Linked DNA regions of Homo sapiens. The main gene of each other region encodes a partner of the protein of the gene in region 3 in a complex. Each region holds a gene or a part of one and is shown on either strand. Other genes may lie near its edges.

Region 1 (5,216 bases), on a different chromosome or scaffold from region 3:
GCAGTGAGCCGAGATGCCGCCACTCTCACCCAGGCTGGAGTACAGATCCGCAATCACGGCTCACTGCAGCCTCAACCTCTCTGGCCCAAGCGATCCTCCCATCTCAGCCTCCCAAGTAGCTGGGACTATAGGCATATACCACCACACCCAACTTTTTGTTTTTATTTTGTAGAGATGAGGAATCACCATGTTGCTCAGGCTGGTCGCTAACTCTGGGCTAAAGCCATCCTCCTGGCCTCGGCCTCCGAAAGTGCTGGGGTTACAGGCATGAGCCACCATACCTGGCCCTCTAAGAATTTTATAGTTTTAGCTCTTACATTTAGGTCCTTGATCCATGTTGAATTAATTTTTGTGTATCATGTTAGGCAGGGGCTTACCTTCATTCTTTGGCATGTGGTTAGCCAGTTGTCTTAGCACAATTTGTTGAGAAGACTACTTTTTCCTTCTATATGGACCATAGTTACTTGCTTCTTTGCATGCCTTATATTTTGTTGAAAACTAGGCATTTAAATATTATAGCGTGGTGACTCTGGAAATTAGGTCCCCAGAGCTGCTTATTGTAGTTGTTTGTTTAGTGACTTTCTGTGGGTTGGGGTAAGGTGAGAGTGGTTGGTTGGTTGGTTTTTGAGACGAAGTCTCGCTCTGTAGCCCAGGCTGGAGTGCAGTAGTGCGATCTTGGCTCACTGCAACCTCCACTCCCCGGGTTCAAGTGATTCTTGCACCTCAGCTTCCTGAGTAGCTGGGGTTACAGGGGCACACCACCATGACCAGCTAATTTTTGTATTTTTAGTAGAAACAAGGTTTTACCATGTTAGCCACGCTGGTCTTGAACTCCTGACCTCAAGTGATCCATCCACCTCGGCCTCCCAAAATGCTGGGATTACAGGTGTAAGCCACCATGCCCGGCCTGTTTAGTGAATTTTTGAACTAATTTTGTAAAGTTTGTATTCTTTGTCCTGTGTGACCACTGAATTCTTTTTTTCGTTAGCTTAGTGGTCAGCTAGTGAATGACACAAGTTTCCTAAATTACCTACAACAACAAGAACAAAAATTCTCCCAGTCTTTGCAGATTGTCTTTTTGTATGTTGGAGCCTGCCTTCAACTCCTTGCCATGCAGTTTACATCTCTCCTTAGCTTTCACTTCCTGCTTGTGCAGAGCCTGAAGGTGAACCAGAGAGCTTACGGCCTTCTCAGATCTTTTCTAAGTATGTGCCCAGCCCTGGACATGCAAGTGGTCTAGATTGCCAGGAATGGGCCAGGCGTGGTGGCTCATGCCTGTAATCTTAGCACTTTGGGAGGGTGAGGCAGACAGATCACTTGAGGCCAGGAGTTTGAGACCAGCCTGGTCAACGTGGCGAAACCCTGTCTCTACTAAAAATACAAAAATTAGCTGGGCATAGTGGCACACGCCTGTAATCCCACCTACTCGGGAGGCTGAGACATGAGAATTGCTTGAGCCCGTGAGGTGGAGGTTGCAGTGAGCCAAGATCGCACCACCGCACTCCGGCCTGGGTGACAGAGGGAGAGTCTGTCCCTAGATAGATAGATAGATAGAGATTAGATAGATAGATAGACACATAGATACATAGATAGATAGATATAGATGATAGAAAGATAGATAGATAGATAGATAGATAGATAGATAGATAGATAGATAGATAGATAGATAGCCTAGGCGACAGAGGGAGAGTGTGTCCCCAGATTAGATAGATAGATAGATAGATAGATAGATAGATAGATAGATACATAGATAGATAGATAGCCAGGAATATGTCGGTGCTTTTCGAAGCTCTTATTCCCCAAATTGTCTCCTTCCCCAGCCCTTCCTCCCAAGGTTTTTGGTTTGTATTTTTGCCCCAACTGTTTTTCCTTGCCCCCAGGAACCAGAGGCTAATAATGTCCTTTCCTTTAAATGTTTTCAAGGGAAGTTCCAAGTTAGGCAAAATAAATGTAAGTCCTTTGGGCTCATCCTTCAGAGAGCCACCAGACAGGTAAAAATAAACAATTTTTATTGTTTATTCTTTGACAATAAGAAATAGGCCCCCTTTGCTTCCTCAGTACTAGGAAACCATACTGGGAATATGGGTTATCTTCAAAGCTGTTGCTGAGCAGGAGACAGAGCCAGCACAAGTTAAAACACTACAAAGCCCTTTTACTGGGACTCAGGGAGTTTTTTGTTTCCTTTTTCCTCATTAAGGGTTTGCCGGGTTACTATAAACTTTTGATTAGTTTTGAGAGTTCCAACAGTTGATTCTGACAGATTTTGCTGGTTAATTTGCTGCTTTCGTGGAGGGACAAGCTTTTGTCATTGTTTATTATACTATTTTCACTGACATACCCTCTATTTTTTTAAATGTGGGTTGCAGCCTACTAATGAATTAGTCTCTACGGTTTGAAAAAATTGTCTGATATCCTTGTTGTTCTAAAAAATATATGAACTAAGTAGTTAGGGGAATTCCATTCTAAGAGTATGTTGATTTAACTCTGTTCACTTCAACAAAGAAGTCTGAAAATATAACCGAAGTTTTGTTTCACCAGCCTTCAAATGTCTTGGCAAAATTGAGCACACTGCTTACCATGTGTGTTATTAGGATATCCAGGAGTTAGTGATATAGGATCCCAATTATAGATGTGTTCATGTCCACAAAGTCCTCGTACTTAAGGGATATTTGTACTGTGCAATTGCTTCTTAGAATGATGTTGCTGATAGACTGTCTTGTCCTTTGCTTCAGCTTTGGGACATCCGGAAGAAAGCAGCCATCCAGACATTTCAGAACACGTACCAGGTGTTAGCTGTGACCTTCAATGACACAAGTGATCAGATTATTTCTGGTGGAATAGACAATGATATCAAGGTATGTTTGATGTTTATGATATATTTCCATTTCATCTATCTGCACTTAGAAACGAATTTTTTCAAACTTCTGAGATTGTGGTAGCTTTGCACTTAATACCAACTGAAAGGAAAATAGTAACTTGGAACTTATTTTCTTTTTCTCCTGTCTTCATTGACTTCCTAAATTAAAGTTTGCATTGCAGATCTTATAAATGCTGTCAGGGACCAGGCACTTAATGTGAAGTGTGAAGTCTCTGTAGGGGGACTATGTAAAAAATAAAGAGTGCATTTCCTTTTAAAGACATTCAAAATCTTTTTTTAACCATCTTGGTTTAAAGAGAGCAGTGAATCAGTTTGTGATTCTGTATCCTCATCTCTCACTGTGTTTTTCTTTTTGACACTATGGAAAGAGAGTTTTCTAAGTTTCTCTAAGAATGAGAGAAGGTAATGATATTAAAGAGGCAATAGACCATATGGCAGTAGAGTGTAGCTCAAACTTTCAAGTAATTGACTTGGGTTCTAATCCCAGTTTCACCATTTTCTAGTTTTGTGACTTCAAGCACCTTCTTTAAGCCTCTTTTTCTTGTGTGAATGGTGAGGGGGTAATGATAAAAAAAAAAAAAAACAGTAGCATCTACCACATACCATTGTGGGGATTAAATGAGCCTGATTCATTAGAGCACTTAGCAGAATTCCTGGACATAACAAGTGCCAGGAAATGTATTATTTTGGGCCTGCACAGCTTCTGTCTTCCTTTCCTCTTGGCTTCCTTGGGGATCTTAACGACTTTGACCTTACCTTCTGCTTTATAGTAAGAAGAGTAACTGTCAGATACTCAACTTTCTGTGTTGTCCTTACCTAGAAGTTGTACTGTATTTCCATCCCTCATTGTTTCCTTTGCTGTTACTTTGGATGAAATATCCTTGCTTTTGGCCAGGTGTGGTGGCTCACACCTGAAATCCCTGCACTTTGGGAGGCCGAGGCGGGTGGATCACAAGGTCAGGAGACCGAGACCGTCCTGGCCAATGTGGTGAAACCTCGTCTCTACTGAAAATACAAAAATTAGCTGGATGTGATGGTGGTGTGCCTGTAATCCCAGCTACTCAGGAGGCTAAGGCAGGAGATTACTTGAACCTGGGAGTCAGAAGTTGCGGTGAGCTGAGATCACGCCACTGCACTCCAGCCTGGCCACGGAGCAAGACTCCATCTCCAAAAAAAAAAAGAAAGGAATATCCTTGCTTTTGTCTAAAGGTAGTCCTTTTTTTTTTTTTTTTTTTTTGAGTCAGAGTCTTCCTCTGTAGCCCAGGCTGGAGTGCAGTGGTGCTATCTCAGCTCACTGCAACCTCTGCCTCCTGGGTCCCAGTTCAAGCAATTCTCCTGCCTCAGCCTCCTGAGTAGCTGGGATTACAGGCACGTGCCACCATGCCCAGCTAATTTTTGTATTTTTTAGTAGAGACAGGGTTTCACCATGTTGGGCAGGCTTATCTCGAACTCCTGACCTTGTGATCCACCTGCCTCGGCCTCCCAAAGTGCTGGGATTACGGGTGTGAGCCACCGTGCCCGGCCTAAAGGTAGTCCTTTAAATGTGAGGGTTTCAATCCTTCGTCACTTCTTTCAACCTCTTCTTTTCTACTTTTCTTTTTTTTGAGACAGAGTCTCACTCTGTCGCCCAGACTTGAATGCAGTGGCGTGATCTTGGCTCACTGCAACTTCTGCCTCCTGGGTTCAAGCAATTCTCTTGCCTCAGCCTCCTGAGTAGCTGGGACTACAGGCGTGTGCCACCATGCCTGGCTAATTTTGTATTTTTGGTAGAGACAGGGTTTCTCTGTGTTGGTCAGGCTGGTCTCGAACTCCTGACCTCAGGTGATCCACCCGCCTTGGCCTCCCAAAGTGGGATTACAGGCATGAGCCACCATGCCTGGCCCAAAACTTCTTAAAAAGGATGATGATGGTGGTGGTGATAATATTGTTATCATCATTATCTAACACATAGTGCTTACTTTCTGCCAGTTGTTGTTCTCAGAGCTTTACATCATTAATTCATTTAAGCTTTGCTATTGACCTCCTCACGGATCTTAAAGACTTTGACCTTACAACCTCATGAAATAAATCCTACTGATGCGATTGTACAGATGAGGAAACTGAGCTAAAAGAGGCACAACAGCTTAAACCCAGGTTACACAGCTAATACGTGATGGAACCTCAGTTCAAATCCCAGAGTTTCATTCTAGAATTATACTCTTAATACTTAGAGGAATACCCTGGAGATTTTTCTGCACTCACTGTCTTCAGTTCCTCACATACCATTCATTCTTCATTCCTAATAGTCTGGTTTTTTTTTTTGTTTTTTGTATGTGTTTTTGTTTTTTAACATAATCGC
Region 2 (5,216 bases), on a different chromosome or scaffold from region 3:
CGGGAGGTCCCTGATCAAGCTGAACTTTTCCAAGAACAGTGAGGGTGAGTGGAACTATCACAGCCAATTCTGGGCTTGACCTGCAGACCCAAGGGCCCAGCTCTCACCAGTTTTCATACGGAATCAGTCATTGCTTTCTGACCAAGCTAGACACCTGCTTTTAATTCCGCAAAAAGTGTCACAGGGCTGGGCACGGTGGCTCACACCTGTAAACCCAGCAGTTTGGGAGGCCGAGGCGGATGGTTCACGAGGTCAAGAGATTGAGACCATCCTGGCCAACATGGTAAAACCCCGTTTCTACTAAAAATACAAAAATTAGCCGGGCATGGTGGCGGGCGCCTGTAGTCCCAGCTACTCGGGAGGCTGAGGCAGGAGAATCACTTGAACCCAGGAGGCAGAGGTTGCAGTGAGCCAAGATGGTGCCACTGCACTCCAGCCTGGCAACAGAGCGAGACTCTGTCTCAAAAAAAAAAGGTGTCACAAGATTTCTTCTCAAAGGTCTGGGTAGTTTTAAGGTGGGGGAGGTTGGGGGCAGAACCTGTGGTGTTGGGAACTTCCCACAAAGGCGATCAGGCCATTGTAAGCTGCTAGTGGCCTTTGTGGGCACAGTTGGATCTGCAGGGCATGGGCCCCCTCTGGCTGAGGCTGTGGTCTGTTTGTTGTTGGAGGCAGAAGTTGCTCATGCTGGGAACCAAGGCGGCAGCTGAGTAGGGGATGTGGGTGGTCTGGAGGGATTTGTCCAGTAGCTCTTGGGCTAGGCTTTTCTTTGCCACAGCTCATAGAGCCCAGCCCAGTGCTGCGGCTCCTGCTTCATGCCCATTACACACCTTCCGCTGTTCTTGTGGCCAGAGGCCCGGATGAGTTGTGCAGCCCACCCCTGCCCAGGTGGTGATCTTGTGCTAGGTTCTAGTCCAGGTCTTTTGCCTGTGGAGATGCTATGGCTTAGGGGTTGTCCTTGCTTACTGGGTGCATGCATTCCAGGGAGATGCTGTAGCACCTGAGGCCAAGGCCCTTTTGCCCCGCTTGTCTGAGCCCAGAGCCCGGTCCCCAGTCGGTGCAGCATTCGCAGGTGAATGAATGGGTGAACCTCAGCACGTCATTGACGTCGGTGGAGGACACGGCGCTCCACCCTGGTGGCCGAGGGTGGGCTGCCTCCCCTCCTGTGATCAGCAGTGTGTGTGTGTGTGTGTGTGTGTGTGTGTGTGTGTCTCATTCAGCAAATATTTATTTATTTATTTTGTGTGTGTGTGTGTGTGTGTGTGTGTGTGTTATTGTTTATTTTTTATTTCTCCAAACCTCTTTTTTTTTTTATTGATCATTCTTGGGTGTTTCTCACAGAGGGGGATTTGGCAGGGTCATAGGACAATAGTGGAGGGAAGATCAGCAGATAAACAAGTGAACAGAGGTCTCTGGTTTTCCTAGGCAGAGGACCCTGCGGCCTTCTGCAGTGTTTGTGTCCCTGGGTACTTGAGATTAGGGAGTGGTGATGACTCTTAACTAGCATGCTGCCTTCAAGCATCTGTTTAACAAAGCACATCTTGCACCGCCCTTAATCCATTTAACCCTGAGTGAACACCGCACATGTTTCAGAGAGCACAGGGTTGGGGGTAAGGTCATAGATCAACAGCATCCCAAGGCAGAATTTTTCTTAGTACAGAACAAAATGGAGTCTCCTATGTCTACTTGTTTCTACACAGACACAGCAACAATCTGATTTCTGTATCTTTTCCCCACATTTCCCCCTTTTCTATTCGACAAAACCACCATCGTCATCATGGCCTGTTCTCAATGAGCTGTTGGGTACACCTCCCAGATGGGGTGGCAGCCGGGCAGAGGGGCTCCTCACTTCCCAGAAGGGGCGGCCGGGCAGAGGCGCCCCTACCTCCCGGACGGGGCGGCGGCCAGGCGGGGGCTGCCCCCCACCTCCCTCTTGGACGGGGCGGCTGGCCGGGCGGGGGCTGCCCCCCACCTCCCTCCCGGACGGGGCGGCTGCCGGGCGGAGACGCTCCTCACTTCCTAGACAGGGCGGCTGCCGGGCAGAGGGGCTCCTCGCTTCTCAGACGGGGCGGCTGCCGGGCGGAGGGGCTCCTCACTTCTCAGACGGGGCGGCCAGGCAGAGACACTCCTCACCTCCCAGATGGGGTTGCAGCCAGGCAGAGGCGCTCCTCACATCCCAGACGATGGGTGGCTGGGCAGAGACGCTCCTCACATCCCAGACAGGGTGGCGGCCGGGCAGAGGCTGCAATCTCGGCACTTTGGGAGGCCAAGGCAGGCGGCTGGGAGGTGGAGGTTGTAGCTAGCCGAGATCACGCCACTGCACTCCAGCCTGGGCAACATTGAGCACTGAGTGAACGAGACTCCGTCTGCAATCCCGGCACCTCGGGAGGCCGAGGCTGGCAGGTCACTCGCGGTTAGGAGCTGGAGACCAGCCTGGCCAACACAGCGAAACCCCGTCTCCACCCAAAAAATACGAAAACCAGTCAGGCGTGGCGGCGCGCGCCTGCAATCCCAGGCACTCGGCAGGCTGAGGCAGGAGAATCACGCAGGGAGGTTGCAGTGAGCCGAGATGGCAGCAGTACAGTCCAGCTTTGGCTCGGCATCAGAGGGAGACCCTGGGGAGCGGGAGCGGGAGAGGGAGAGGGAGGGACAGCAAATATTTATTGAGTGCCTGCCATGTGCAGAGAGCACAACAGGCTGTGTCTCTCCTGAATGAGAGGAGCATGCATTCTGGTGGGGGAGAACACCAGAGAGCAGCTCAGCAGGGTGTGCCAGAGGCTGCTTGTGTGTGTAGAGCACAGCAGGGGGAGGGGAGAGGGCCGCCCTGACCCGCTGCAGGGAGGGAGAGCCGTGTGGGCATCGGGGGAGTGCAGGGCCAGGCTGATGGCACAGCCAGTGCAAAGACCCTGAGGTGGGCGCACGCTCAAGGGTGTCTGTGCCCAGCTGGGAGTCCAATGTGGCTGGAACAGCGTGTGCTAGCGGTGGAAGCAGGGGATGTGGTGACAGAGGTCAGGGGTGGGGATGGTGTGCAGAGCAGTCCTGTGGGGCCTGGGAGCCACAGGAGGACTTGGGCTTCCGCTCCAAGATGAGAGCCACTGAGGGAGGAATGAGGTCCAGCCTTTTTTTTTCTTTTAAAACTTTGACCTGGCAGTCAGCTTCTTTTGTTGTGTTTCCTTTTTTCTTTTGAAATGAGGTCTCTGTCACCCAGGCTGGAATGCAGTGGCACAGTCTCAGCTCACTGCAACCTCTGCCTCCTGGGCTCAAGAGATCCTCCCACCTCAGCCTCCCAAGTAGCTGGGACTACAGGCACCACCACTGCACCCAGCTAGTTTTTGTGTTTTTTGTAGAGACGGGGTTTCACCATGTTGGCCAGGCTGGTCTCGAACTCCTGGGCTCAAGTGATCCACCTGCCTCAGCCTCCCAAAGTGCTGGGATTACAGGCGTGAGCCACTGCGCCCCACCTGTTTCTTTGTTAATTGGAATTCCCCGTGCGTGAAAGTGGAGTGAGGAGGTGTGATACGCCTCCCCTGTGCCCATCATCAACTCCAGCCCCTGCTGTCTCCCATCTGTGCAGTTCTGTCTTTGCTCCCACCAGTACCCCCTTGCATGATGCTGAAGCCCCAATTTAAAAAACAGTTTTCACATCAGAAGGATTTTTGTTTGTTTGTTTGTTTTTGAGACATGGTCTTGCCCTGTTGCCCAGGCTGGAGTGTAGTGGCATGATCAGAGCGCACTGTTGCTTCGACCTTCCAGGACCAAGTGCTCCTTCCACCTCAGTCTCCCAAGTAGATGGGACCACAGGCATGTACTACCATGCCCAGCCAATTTTTTTTTTTTTTTTTTTTGAGATGGAGTTTCGCTCTTGTTCCCCAGGCTGGAGTGCAATGGCGTGATCTCGGCTCACTGCAACCTCCGCCTCTTGGGTTCAAGCGATTCTCCTGGCTCAGCCTCCCGAGTGGCTGGGATTACAGGCATGTGCCACCACACCTGGCTAATTTTGTATTTTTAGTAGAGACGGGGTTTCTCCATGTTGGTCAGGCTGGTCTCAAACTCCCGACCTCAGGTGATCCTCCCGCCTCTGCCTCCGAAAGTGCTGGGATTACAGGTGTGAGCCACCGCGCCCAGCCCCAGCTACTTTTTTAATTTTTATTTTTGTAGAGATGAGGTTTCCCTATGTCACCCAGGCTGGTCTTGAAGTCCTGGGCTCAAGTGATCCTCCCGCGTCAGCATCCCCCCACCAAAAAAAAACAGCTGGGCACCATGGTTTACGCCTGCAATCTCAGCACTTTGGGAGGCCAAGGTGGGAGGATTGCTTGAGCCCAGGAGTTCAAGACCAGCCTGGGCAACATAATGAAACCTTGTCTCTACAAAATGAAACCTAAAAATTAGCCAGTGTGGTTGAGCACACCTGTAGTCCCAGCTACTTGGGAGGCTGAGGTGGGAGGATTATTGGAGCTTGGGAAGTTGAGACTGCGTGAGCTGTGATTGCGCCACTGCATTCCAGCCTGGGTGATAGAGCTAGACCCTGTCTCAAAAAACAAAACAAAACAAAAAAACGGGGTCTCAGCCTATCGCCTAGGCTGGTCTCAAACTCCTGACCTCAAGCAATCCTCCCACCTTGGCCTCCCAAAGCACTGGGACTAGAGGTGTGAGCCACCTCTAACTTGAGGCTCTAACTAATTTGAGGCTCTAACTTGGCCTCAAATCAGGATTTTTTTTAAGAAAAAGTCCCCACAAGGCCAGGTGCGGTGGCTCACGCCTGTAATCCCAGCACTTTGGGAGGCCAAGGTGGGCAGATCACGAGATCAGGAGATCGAGACCATCCTGGCTAACACGGTGAAACCCCGTCTCTACTAAAAAAATACAAAAAATTAGCCGGGCATGGTGGCGGGCGCCTGTAGGTCCCAGCTACTCAGGAGGCTGAGGCAGGAGAATGGCGTGAACCCGGGAGGCGGAGCTTGCAGTGAGCCGAGGAGATCATGCCACTGCACTGCAGCCTGGGCAACGGCAAGACTCTGTCTCAAAAAAAAAAAAAAAGAAAAAGTCCCCACAAATACATGTGGTTGATGTTTCTGAGTCCCCCTACTGCACTTACTTTTTTATCCCCAGAAGTGGGCACTTTGACAGGGCCCCTGGCCACTGGGTGGGGACTTACAGGCAGAGAGACAGTAACCAAGGCCAGGTGCAGTGGCTCATGCCTGTAATGCCAGCACTTTGAG
Region 3 (5,216 bases):
CTCCCCCAAGGAGGCCTCAGCATAATTCTTCAGGTGCATCTCCTAGGAGAGTCCGTCATGATTCACCAGATCCCTCTCCTCCTAGGCGAGCCCGTCATGGTTCCTCAGATATCTCTTCCCCCAGAAGGGTCCATAACAACTCCCCTGACACATCTAGGAGGACTCTTGGCTCTTCAGACACACAGCAACTCAGAAGGGCCCGTCATGACTCCCCTGATTTGGCTCCTAATGTCACTTATTCCCTGCCCAGAACCAAAAGTGGTAAAGCCCCAGAAAGAGCCTCTAGCAAGACTTCTCCACATTGGAAGGAGTCAGGAGCCTCCCATTTGTCATTCCCAAAGAACAGCAAATATGAGTATGACCCTGACATCTCTCCTCCACGAAAAAAGCAAGCAAAATCCCATTTTGGAGACAAGAAGCAGCTTGATTCCAAAGGTGAGCATATGACTGTCCATGAGAGGGATGTATGTATCCCTGGGAGCTTTCTTTTGGCCGTTTAGTTGATTTATTAGGTATAAGAATGGAATTTCTTTGGGAAAGTTTTGAAAAGTGAGAGGCTGGGTTTGGGAGAGTTGAACAATTATGGTGGCAGGGAGGAAGGTTTTCATATGTCTTTTTATGTGCTCGCTCCACCCCATATAAAAGTACAATTTATTTGTTGCAGAAGCTTTGGAATGTACAGAAGTATATAAAGATAAAATGTGACACAAAATTCTGTCATTCAGAGGCAATTATTGTTAGTGTTGTGGCCAGGGTCATCTTAGTCTTTTTTGGTTTGCATTTTTTATATAGTTGAGCTCTGGCTGTGTAGAACATTTGTATTGCATGTGCAATCTTGCCTGCTGTCCTTTCTTAACGTAGTCTTCCTCAGGCCATAAAACATCTTTATGTTAGTATAATTTTTAATAGTGTTTAATTACAAATTTAACCATTTTCCTAATAATGAATGTTTTTGGTTATTTCTAAGTTTTTTCTTCTGTAATTCTATAATGAACATCCTTGTACATAAACTGTTGTCCCCATTTTGGATTATTTCCTTATCTACTTCTAGATAGATTTCCTCGAAATTCAACTACTTCTATATAAGTTTCCTAGAAAGCTGAGAAGTTGATGTACTGGGTCAGAAGATGTGGGCGTTTTAAAGACTGTCGATACATATTGCAGAATGCCCTTTGGGAGGTGACTTGTGATGCTTATACAGTCGCTAGAACTTAGGCCTGTGCAGTGAAATTTTTTACTCCCTCTTTTGTTCCTAGGAACTATTTTAATTTTAAAATTAAAGTACTTTGTTATCCTTTAGTCCAAGGATATCAGACTATATTCCAGGTATTTCTGACTTTTGCCACACTATGGAGAGCTGACTACAAGTTATTTTGTCTTTCCATGGGTGGGGTTACTGACATAGAGGAGTGTGTGGAGATTTTACACACCAGTTACAGTCAGTGGTCACTTGGGAATAGAATGCCATATTCTACCTGTTGGTCTTAAAAGTTGTTTCTGACTTTGCTCTTCTCCTGTGCCATCCATACTTATGTTTAGGTTAATGATAATTCTTCATAGGAAAACTAAATAAATATTGTACATTAGCTTGGTAAGTTATCTTTTTAGATTCTTCCAAGGGGATTAAAGAACTCTTTGGCCAGGCATGGTGGCTCAAGCCTATAATCCCAGCACTTTGGAGGCCGAGGTGGGCAGATCACCTCAGGTCAGGAGTTCAAGACCAGCCTGGCCAACATAGCGAAACCCCATCTCTACTAAAAACACAAAAATTAGCTGGGCGTGGTGGCACACACCTGTAATTCCAGCTACTTGGGAGGCTGAGGCACAATAATTGCTTGAACCCAGGAGGCGGAGGTTGCAGTGAGCTGAGATCATGCCACTGCACTCCAGCCTGAGACTGTCTCAAAAAAAAAAAAATAATAATAATGTAAGGAATTCTTTAATTTCTAGGTTCTTCTCCCAGCCATAGGAGATTTCATGTAAGTTCTTCACCTAGAGGACATCAGAGTCACACAGATTCTTTGCTCCTATCCAGGTGACTGCCAGAAAGCAACTGATTCAGACCTTTCTTCTCCACGGCATAAACAAAGTCCAGGGCACCAGGATTCTGATTCAGATCTGTCACCTCCACGGAATAGACCTAGACACCGGAGCTCTGATTCTGACCTCTCTCCACCAAGGAGGAGACAGAGGACCAAATCTTCTGATTCTGACCTGTCCCCGCCTCGAAGGAGTCAGCCTCCTGGAAAGAAGGTCAGGATTTTCAGGAGCCATGTCCTTCTTTTCGTGTGACTCTTCTCTCTCAGCTTTATATATGTCCCAGAGAATCAAGCCAAGAAGAAGGATGTAGCTCTGAGAAGTGTAGTAAATCTTAGTTAAAAGGACCTTTGGAGGTCTTTCCTTCTGAAGGCAAACTGGCTATAACCCATCCCAGATGGACTTACAGATACCAGATTTCCCAAGTAGCTTCTGCGTTTATAGCCTCTTAATTCTACAATCTCATTTTAACAGGTCTAGAAAAACTTCCTATTTTCTTAGGAATAAACCGAGGACTGTAATTTGCAGAGTGAAGTTTGGAGCACAAGCATTGTGTCAAACGGATCACATACAGAAATTCTCCTTCTGCCACTTACTGTCTGTGAGATTTGGGCAAGATGCTTAATATCTCTAAACCTCAGTTTCTTTATCTGTAAATTGTGGATAATAGTAGTACCTACTGTGTAAGGTTGTTATGATAATTAAGCCAGTGTAAGTAAAACTCTTAGCACAGTGTCTGGGACAAAGTAAGCATCTAGTGTTAGTGATTTACTAGTATAAATTGGACTATAGGTCTCTGTATCCAGAGCTTAAGGAGAGGCACTTAAAATATGAAACCACTTTTAGAAATCATGTTGTCTGAGAAGTCAATGGTTTGTTTTAAATTCATGATAAGGCTTGATGAATTAGCCAAAAAACCCCAAAATCCATATGAACCTTGAGTAATTATATTGTAAAGAACATTGGTAGTAGTAAAGGAATCTTATTTGTAAGTGGTTAAGAAACAGAATGATAGAGCCTGTGATGTGCATTTTTCTCCCCAGTGCAGACTTATCAGGTAAATCTTGTCTGTAGAAGACTCTGAGAAGACTGGTCCTGGCAGGGTAGACCAGCCTGTTCTTTACCCAGGAAGTGAGATTCTTCTTTTTTAGGGAAAAAAGAGGTCTCTGTTTCAGCTGGACCTCTTGGCATTTTATATATCCATTTAGTTCATGGACAACTTAATATTATTCCAATTTCGTTGCTGAAGGATATCAAGATATACTGTGTGCTTCATTCGTGGGCTGATTTGCTATCTTGATGCTAAGTGGAAATTAGCAAAAAGTTTTCATTTGTTAGATCTTCTGTTATTACCATGAAATATATCCACAATTTAAGGATCTTAGGTTTGCTTGAGTTTGTACTGTAAATGGAATATTTTATCAGTATGGGTCTCTAATGGAAGGCTTAGTGCTTTATACTGGTTTCTGATCAGATGACCTGAGATAGTCTTCATGTGTGCAGTTTATATACTGAAAAGTCAGAAATACAAATGCGTAGCCCTCCATTTAATATATTGTTAGTGTTTCTGCTTATTCTTAAACTTGATGGTTTTGATGATGGTTTTCTTTTATAGTTTTTGAATCCTATGGTAATTATTGAGAATATAAAGCTAGAGTTTTAGGTTTAATTATTGCTGGTCATTAGACACAAATGCAACTAACTGTGTACCCATGGAGCCTACTGTCACATCATCTCATTAATGTTGGATGCTCCCTTTTCCGTTGCATAGGCTGCACACATGTATTCTGGGGCTAAAACTGGGTTGGTGTTAACTGACATACAGCGAGAACAGCAGGAGCTCAAGGAACAGGATCAAGAAACCATGGCATTTGAAGGTAAAAATATGAAAGTGCAGAGACCAATTTAGGCTCATACTGTTTTTTTTTTTTTAATTTAGCTTATTGTACCTGATATTTTGAACTTTTAATTGCTATCAAATTTCAGCTCTGGTTTTATGCATTGTTGTAATTTCTCAGTGAATCCCAGTGCTTCTTTCCTTCTTGAAAAATGCCATTTCGCCCAGGCGCGGTGGCTCATGCTTGTAATCCCAGCACTTTGGTAGGCCGAGGCGGGTGGATCAGCTGAGGTCTGTAGTTCAAGACCAGCCTGGCTAACATGATGAAACCCTGTCTCTACCAAAAATACAAAAAAAAACTAGCCAGGCATGGTGTTGCATGCCTGTAATCCCAGCTACTCAGGAGGCTGAGACAGGAGAATCGCTTGAACCTGGGAGGTGGAGGTTGCAGTGAGCCAAGATCGCGCCACTGCACTCCAACCTGGGCAACAGAGTGAGACTCCATCTCAAAAAAAAAAAAAAAAAAAAAAGGAAAATGCCATTTCTTGGGCCCAGTGCCAATATGCACCAAGATGTTGGTAGGAACTACTTTGGTCTGGCTGCAGAAGTTCTTATCTAGCATTAGAATCCCAAGCGGTTGATTTGATCTCTTAGAATGTTATTTCTGATTTTGATCCTGATATTTGAGTATAATTTTCCTTTGCAGCTGAATTTCAATATGCTGAAACCGTATTTCGAGATAAGTCTGGTCGTAAGAGGAATTTGAAACTCGAACGTTTAGAGCAAAGGAGGAAAGCAGAAAAGGACTCAGAGAGAGATGAGCTGTATGCCCAGTGGGGAAAAGGGTAAGGGAACCACTGAAAGGGTAAACAAGATGGCAGTGACTGGAACAAGTCATTTCTCTGCTCTTCTGATCACTCACTTTCTTATTATGCCTTCAGAGCTGTTATCAGTAATGGGAAATTTGGTGTGCTGAATCTTCTTCCTAGGATATTGATATATTCCACGCTTCTAGTGGGTATTCTGGGAATTTTACCCTGCTCAGTATTTGCCCTAGGGTACTAGAAAGAGGAGATTGTCCAAACTTAGCAGTATGGTCCATCTCGTGTAGAAGTGGAAATGTCATACAGGATAGCAAACACTCTTGGTTCCTTTTTGCCCAGGCTTGCCCAGAGCCGGCAACAGCAACAAAATGTGGAGGATGCAATGAAAGAGATGCAAAAGCCTCTGGCCCGCTATATTGATGACGAAGATCTGGATAGGATGCTAAGAGAACAGGAAAGAGAGGGGGACCCTATGGCCAACTTCATCAAGAAGAATAAGGCCAAGGAGAACAAGAATA
Region 4 (5,216 bases), on a different chromosome or scaffold from region 3:
GTCCAAACTTTCCTGTCATCAAAGGCCCTCCCTAATCTTAGCCCCAAATTGTTTTTAGCCTTGTCTCCTACTCCTTCACCACATGAACCTCCCACTAAGCCTACTAGCTCACACTCTGACCTCAAACATACCTTGGGCCTTCCTCTGATGACTTCTCAGCCATTTTTCTTTTTTGAGATGGAGTCTCGCATTGTCACCCAGGCTGGAGTGCAGTGGCACAATCTCAGCTCACTGCAACCTCCTCCTCCTGGGTTCAAGCGATTCTCATGACTCAGCCTCCTAAACAGGTGGGATTATAGGCGCACGCCACCATGCCCTGCTGATTTTTGTATTTTCAGTGGAGGCAGGGTTTCACCACGTTAGGCAGCCTGGTTTCGAACTACTGACCTCAAGTGATCCGCCCACCTCAGCCTCCGAAAGTCCTGGGATTACAGGCGTGAGCCACCGCACCTGACCTCAGACATTTCTCTTAAAGGTCCATATCAAATCCCACCTCTTAGCACATCAAGGACTTCCCTTCTCCACTGAATCTACTGTGCATACTTTCCAGATCACATATTTGGCTCTCTCTTGGTTCACACCATATTTCTCCTCTCTTCAGTCCCAGGAACAAGGGACTGGCTGCTCCTCAGCTGTGTGCAGCAGTGCGCAGGACTCACCTTGCATGGGGCAGGCACACAGCTTTTTCACTACTAGTTGTGGGAAGCATAGGGGTGAAGAGTGTGGGTTTCTCCAACTGACCTTTCGTGCCCCAGGTGGTGTGGGCTGGAAGATACGGGCCTGCATGTCAGAGGGCAGATTGGCATAAATGGGCAGCACCAGGAGCTCCCGGATTTTGGAGCCCAGGCGGCGGCAGCGATCCTGGAGCATCTCACAGGCAGCCTCAATCTCCTCCTGGATAGAGGGTAGGGAGAGCAGCAGGGGTCCCAGAGTCACAGAAGGCCAACATGCCGGCCCTGTCTTCCCCTGGGATACATCATCCCCTCTCCCCACCATGTCAGGCACCTGTCCTGTCAGGAACACCAGGATATCCCCAGGGGGCTGGGTCACATGGATCTGCAACACAGATACTACACAAGCTTCCAAGTAGTCAGCCTCTGGAGCCTGGAGAGCAGAAAGAGATGGGGTCACAGGAGGGCCACCTGCTTAGGCAAACCTTTCCTCTCCTCCCAATTCAACATACACTTTATCCTAGTTCCCCTTTGAACCTTCCATTCCATCTTTCCCTCCACAGGATAACCTTCTCCAAAGGCCTCAGCTTTTCTGCCACAGACTTAAGCCCATCCTCCCTGAGGGGGCACCTTGGTGTAGAAGATGTCCACAGGAAACCTGCGTCCGGGGATTCGAAACACAGGGGCGTCATCAAAGAAGGTGGAAAAACGGGCAGTGTCCATTGTGGCTGAAGCCACCAGGACCTTGAGCTCAGGTCGGAAGCGAGCAACATCCTTGATCAATCCAAAGAGAATGTCTGTGTGTAGGGTCCTTTCGTGTGCCTCATCCACCATCACCACGCTGGGGAGGGAATAGGAGAGCAATGAGGGAAGAGCGCTAGGCAATGCAGTATCAGACACCAGAGTTAACTGGATGAGAGGGGAGTAATGGACACAAAGAGTTCAAGAATGACTGTTGACGGAGGGGGCTCTAAGGAGAAGTCAGCCATCCCACTTATGTAGAGCAACAGAAAGTCAGAGAAGGCCAGGGCCCCATGATCTGCAACCTATCCCAGCCTCAGCAGATAATAGGAGACAAGATGTAGAGGCTGCACACTGAGGCCAGGACAAGTTAGCCATACCCTCTAGTTCAGTCAAGAGTCTGCTTAGACTCAGCAGCTGCTCTTACTAGAAAAAGTTGAAGGATATGTTTTAGGCTGGGCATGGTGGTAGCTCACGCCTGTAATCCCAGCACCTTGGGAGGCCGAGGCAGGTGGATCACAAGGTCAGGAGTTCGAGACCAGTCTGGCCAATACAGTGAAACCCCGTCTCTTCTAAAAATACAAAAAAAATTAGCCAGATGTGGTGGTAGACGCCTGTAGTCCCAGCTACTTGGGAGGCTGAGGCAGGAGAATCGCTTGAACCTGGGAGGCAGAGGTTGCAGTGAGCCAAGATCGTGCCACTGCACTCCAGCCTGGGTGACAGAGCGAGACTCCATCTAAAAAAAGAAAAAAGAAAAAGTGGAAGGATTTTTTTTTTGAGACAGTCTTGCTCTGTTGCAGGCTGGAGTGTAGTGGCATGATCTCAGCTCACTGCAAGCTCCGCCTCCTGGGTTCACACCATTCTCCTGCCTCAGCCTCCCAAGTAGCTGGGACTACAGGTGCCTGCCACTGTGCCTGGCTAATTTTTTGTATTTTTAGTAGAGACGGAGTTTTGAAACAGAGTCTCACTCTGTCGCCCAGGCTGGAGTACAGTGGCACGATCTCGGCTCACCGCAAGCTCCGCCTCCTGGGTTGCGTTCACGCCATTCTCCTGCCTCAGCCTCCTGAGTAGCTGGGACTACAGGTGCCCGCCACCACGCCCAGCTAATTTTTTATATTTTTTAGTAGAGACGGGGTTTCACCGTGTTAGCCAGGATGGTCTTGATCTCCTTACCTCGTGATCCGCCTGCCTCTGCCTCCCAAAGTGCTGGGATTACAGGCGTGAGCCACCGCTCCCGGCTGATACGTTTTAAAGGAAAAAAAAAGTGGAAGGCAGGGTCCCTTTCAATAAGGGTGGGCCAGCAAGGCTGACTGGGGGTAATAGACCTGAGCTGCTGTGATTCAAATAGCCTAGAAGCTCCTGGTGTCCTGTGGGACAACTGCTGCTGGCATCATTCTTGACTGTTTCTTCTTTTGGAGACAGGAGCAAGTTAAGCCTTTCTACCTCAACTCTCACAGGACTCTGCATGCTCCTTGGTTTCCTCCTAACTCAGTTATGTGCATGACACCTTCTTTCTCTTTGTTCTTTGGCTTTTCTGGGTGGCAGCCAAGTCCCAGGAACTCATCCCCATCTTCCCCTACCCACCTCCCTGACCTCAACTCTTTGTGCCTAACCCTAACTGTGATGGTGAAGTCCCCAGCCATTCCACAAAGCAGGCTGGCTCGATGGGCAAAAACATCTGCATCAGACACTCTTGCGCTGGCTGGCTCTCCATGGGTTCTTAGAGATCTTTTGCAAGGGATATGAAGGATAAAATCCTATCTGTCCAATTGCTCCACTGTGATCTTCCAAGACCAGAAATTCACAGCCTCTGAAGAGTCAAAAAGGCACATATTGTTCAGCTGGCCTGACCCCACCCCCATTACATTCATGAATCCCTTTTCCCCCTCAACACATGTTCAACCAACCCCTGCTTGGCCATTTCCAGCACTAAGAGCTCATTATTCACAGACCAAGCTACCCAAGACTTGTGTGGAGGGCCAAGACCCAGAGTCCAACCACTCTGACAGGCCCTGCAATCTCCACCACTCTGAGGGTTACTCAGCCATTGGTATTGAGTTGGAATCTGTCTCCCTGTAACCTCCCCATGGCTCCTAGCTATGTCGTGTAGGGTCACATAAAACAATCTGATCCTTCTTTCCATGTAACAGCCTTCACATATTTAGAGGGAACCAGGATGCTTCCTGTTTCTCCCTCTGAGCTGAGCATTCCAAGTGTTTTCAAATGGTCTTCACACGGTATTTCAAGTCTCGGCAGCAATGCTCTGCTATCCTGGTTGTTTTCTAAACCCTGGAGATGAATGGGGAAAGAAGAGGCTTTCTCTACAATCTCTTCTGTCCTCCAGCCCCATCTCCGTGGTACCTGGAGGTCAGTTCAAGGACCATTTGAACCACAAAGATTCAAGAACGGGTGGATTAATCAGAAGACAATGGCTGAATTGGCTGGGTGGGAAGAAGGGAGAGAAAGGCCAGAGATTAGAGATACCTGTAACTCGCCAGGTCAGGCTCAGAGAGGAACTCCCGGAGAAGCATCCCATCTGTCATGTAGCGGAGGACAGTTCGCTCTGATGTGCAGTCCTCAAAGCGGATGCTGTAGCCAACCTGGTCAAGGGAACCATTAGCAACCAAGTGTGGGCTGGTGTGCCCTGAAAGGAACTTGGGGAAAGGTGAAGTGGGGCAGCACCAAGACTTCTGCTGTAGGGACCTGAGGGAACTGTAGACTGAGTCACAGACCCCAGACTCTACCCCCCGGTTCCCTAGAAATCTCACCTCATTCCCAAGCTTCACACCCATCTCCCGGGCCACTCGGGCGGCCACACTCATGGCAGCCACTCTCCGGGGTTGGGTGCAGGCAATCTTCATACCCTTGTTTGTATAACCCTGAATGACAAAGAAAAAAGAAGAAGTTTGCCCTTTACTAAATATGCACCCTGGGACCAGGTACATTTCAGAGAAAGAAGTTGTAAAAACCAGGCAGGAGAAAAGGAGGAAAAGACAGATGCTGAAAACCAGAAAAGAAGGGCAAATAGATAGGATGACAGACCTAGGGCCCTCAAAGGGGGTCCTCACCCAGCTCTGGGTAATTAAGTTCATGACTCTGCTAGACTTGAGCTGGAAAAGAACAGATTAGCTGAGACAGAGCCAGCTAAGGTAAAAAAGCAGGAAGGCTGGGCACAGTGGCTCATGCCTGTAATCCTAGTACTTTGGGAGGCTGAGGTGGGAGGATGGCTTGAGCTCAGGAGTTCGAGACCAGCCTGGGCAACATAGTGTGACAAAAAAATTAAAAATTCAAAATTTTGACCAGGCACAGTGGCTCACACCTGCAATTCCAGCACTTTGGGAGGCCGAGGCAGACGGATCTCCTGAGGTTGGGAGTTCGAGACCAGCCTGGCCAAAATGGTGAAACCCCGTCTACTAAAAATACAAAAAATTAGCCGAGCATGGTGGTGCATGCCTGTATTTCCAGCTACTTGGGAGGCTGAGGCAGGAGAGTCGCTTGAACCTGGGAGACAGAGGTTGCAGTAAGCCAAGATCATGCCACCGCACTCCAGCCTGGGCAACAGAGCAAGACTCTGTCTCAAAAAAAAAAAAAAAAAAATTTCAGGCCAGGCACAGTGGCTAACACCTGTAACTCCAGCACTTTGGGAGGCTGAGGTGGGCAGATCACGAGGTCAGGAGATTGAGACCATCCTGGCCAACATGGTGAAACCCCATCTCTACTAAAAATACAAAAATTAGCTGGGTGTGGTGGTACGCACCTGTAGTCCCAGCTACTTAGGAGGCTGAGGCAGGAGAATCACTTGAA

Evidence for each region. The genes of interacting proteins can lie anywhere in the genome.
Region 1: BUD13 (region 3) and SNRNP40 share a complex: the UniProt entries of both Homo sapiens proteins name them as parts of the minor spliceosome.
Region 2: BUD13 (region 3) and PPIL2 share a complex: the UniProt entries of both Homo sapiens proteins name them as parts of the minor spliceosome.
Region 4: BUD13 (region 3) and DHX16 share a complex: the UniProt entries of both Homo sapiens proteins name them as parts of the minor spliceosome.

What each region holds. Positions count from the first base shown.
Region 1 is NC_000001.11:31,279,013-31,284,228, reverse strand, and holds part of SNRNP40 (U5 small nuclear ribonucleoprotein 40 kDa protein), read left to right. Parts: intron 1-2,732; coding exon 2,733-2,855; intron 2,856-5,216. UniProt on the Homo sapiens protein: Required for pre-mRNA splicing as component of the activated spliceosome. Component of the U5 small nuclear ribonucleoprotein (snRNP) complex and the U4/U6-U5 tri-snRNP complex, building blocks of the spliceosome.
Region 2 is NC_000022.11:21,675,072-21,680,287, forward strand, and holds part of PPIL2 (RING-type E3 ubiquitin-protein ligase PPIL2), read left to right. Parts: coding exon 1-44; intron 45-5,216. UniProt on the Homo sapiens protein: Has a ubiquitin-protein ligase activity acting as an E3 ubiquitin protein ligase or as an ubiquitin-ubiquitin ligase promoting elongation of ubiquitin chains on substrates.
Region 3 is NC_000011.10:116,757,772-116,762,987, reverse strand, and holds part of BUD13 (BUD13 homolog), read left to right. Parts: coding exon 1-435; intron 436-2,035; coding exon 2,036-2,253; intron 2,254-3,808; coding exon 3,809-3,914; intron 3,915-4,580; coding exon 4,581-4,719; intron 4,720-5,037; coding exon 5,038-5,216. UniProt on the Homo sapiens protein: Involved in pre-mRNA splicing as component of the activated spliceosome. As a component of the minor spliceosome, involved in the splicing of U12-type introns in pre-mRNAs.
Region 4 is NC_000006.12:30,658,731-30,663,946, forward strand, and holds part of DHX16 (pre-mRNA-splicing factor ATP-dependent RNA helicase DHX16), read right to left. Parts: intron 4,292-5,216; coding exon 4,181-4,291; intron 4,013-4,180; coding exon 3,897-4,012; intron 3,702-3,896; exon of another isoform or gene 3,127-3,701; coding exon of another isoform or gene 3,026-3,126; intron 1,888-3,025; exon of another isoform or gene 1,840-1,887; intron 1,513-1,839; coding exon 1,302-1,512; intron 1,105-1,301; coding exon 1,006-1,104; intron 895-1,005; coding exon 742-894; intron 1-741. UniProt on the Homo sapiens protein: Required for pre-mRNA splicing as a component of the spliceosome. Contributes to pre-mRNA splicing after spliceosome formation and prior to the first transesterification reaction.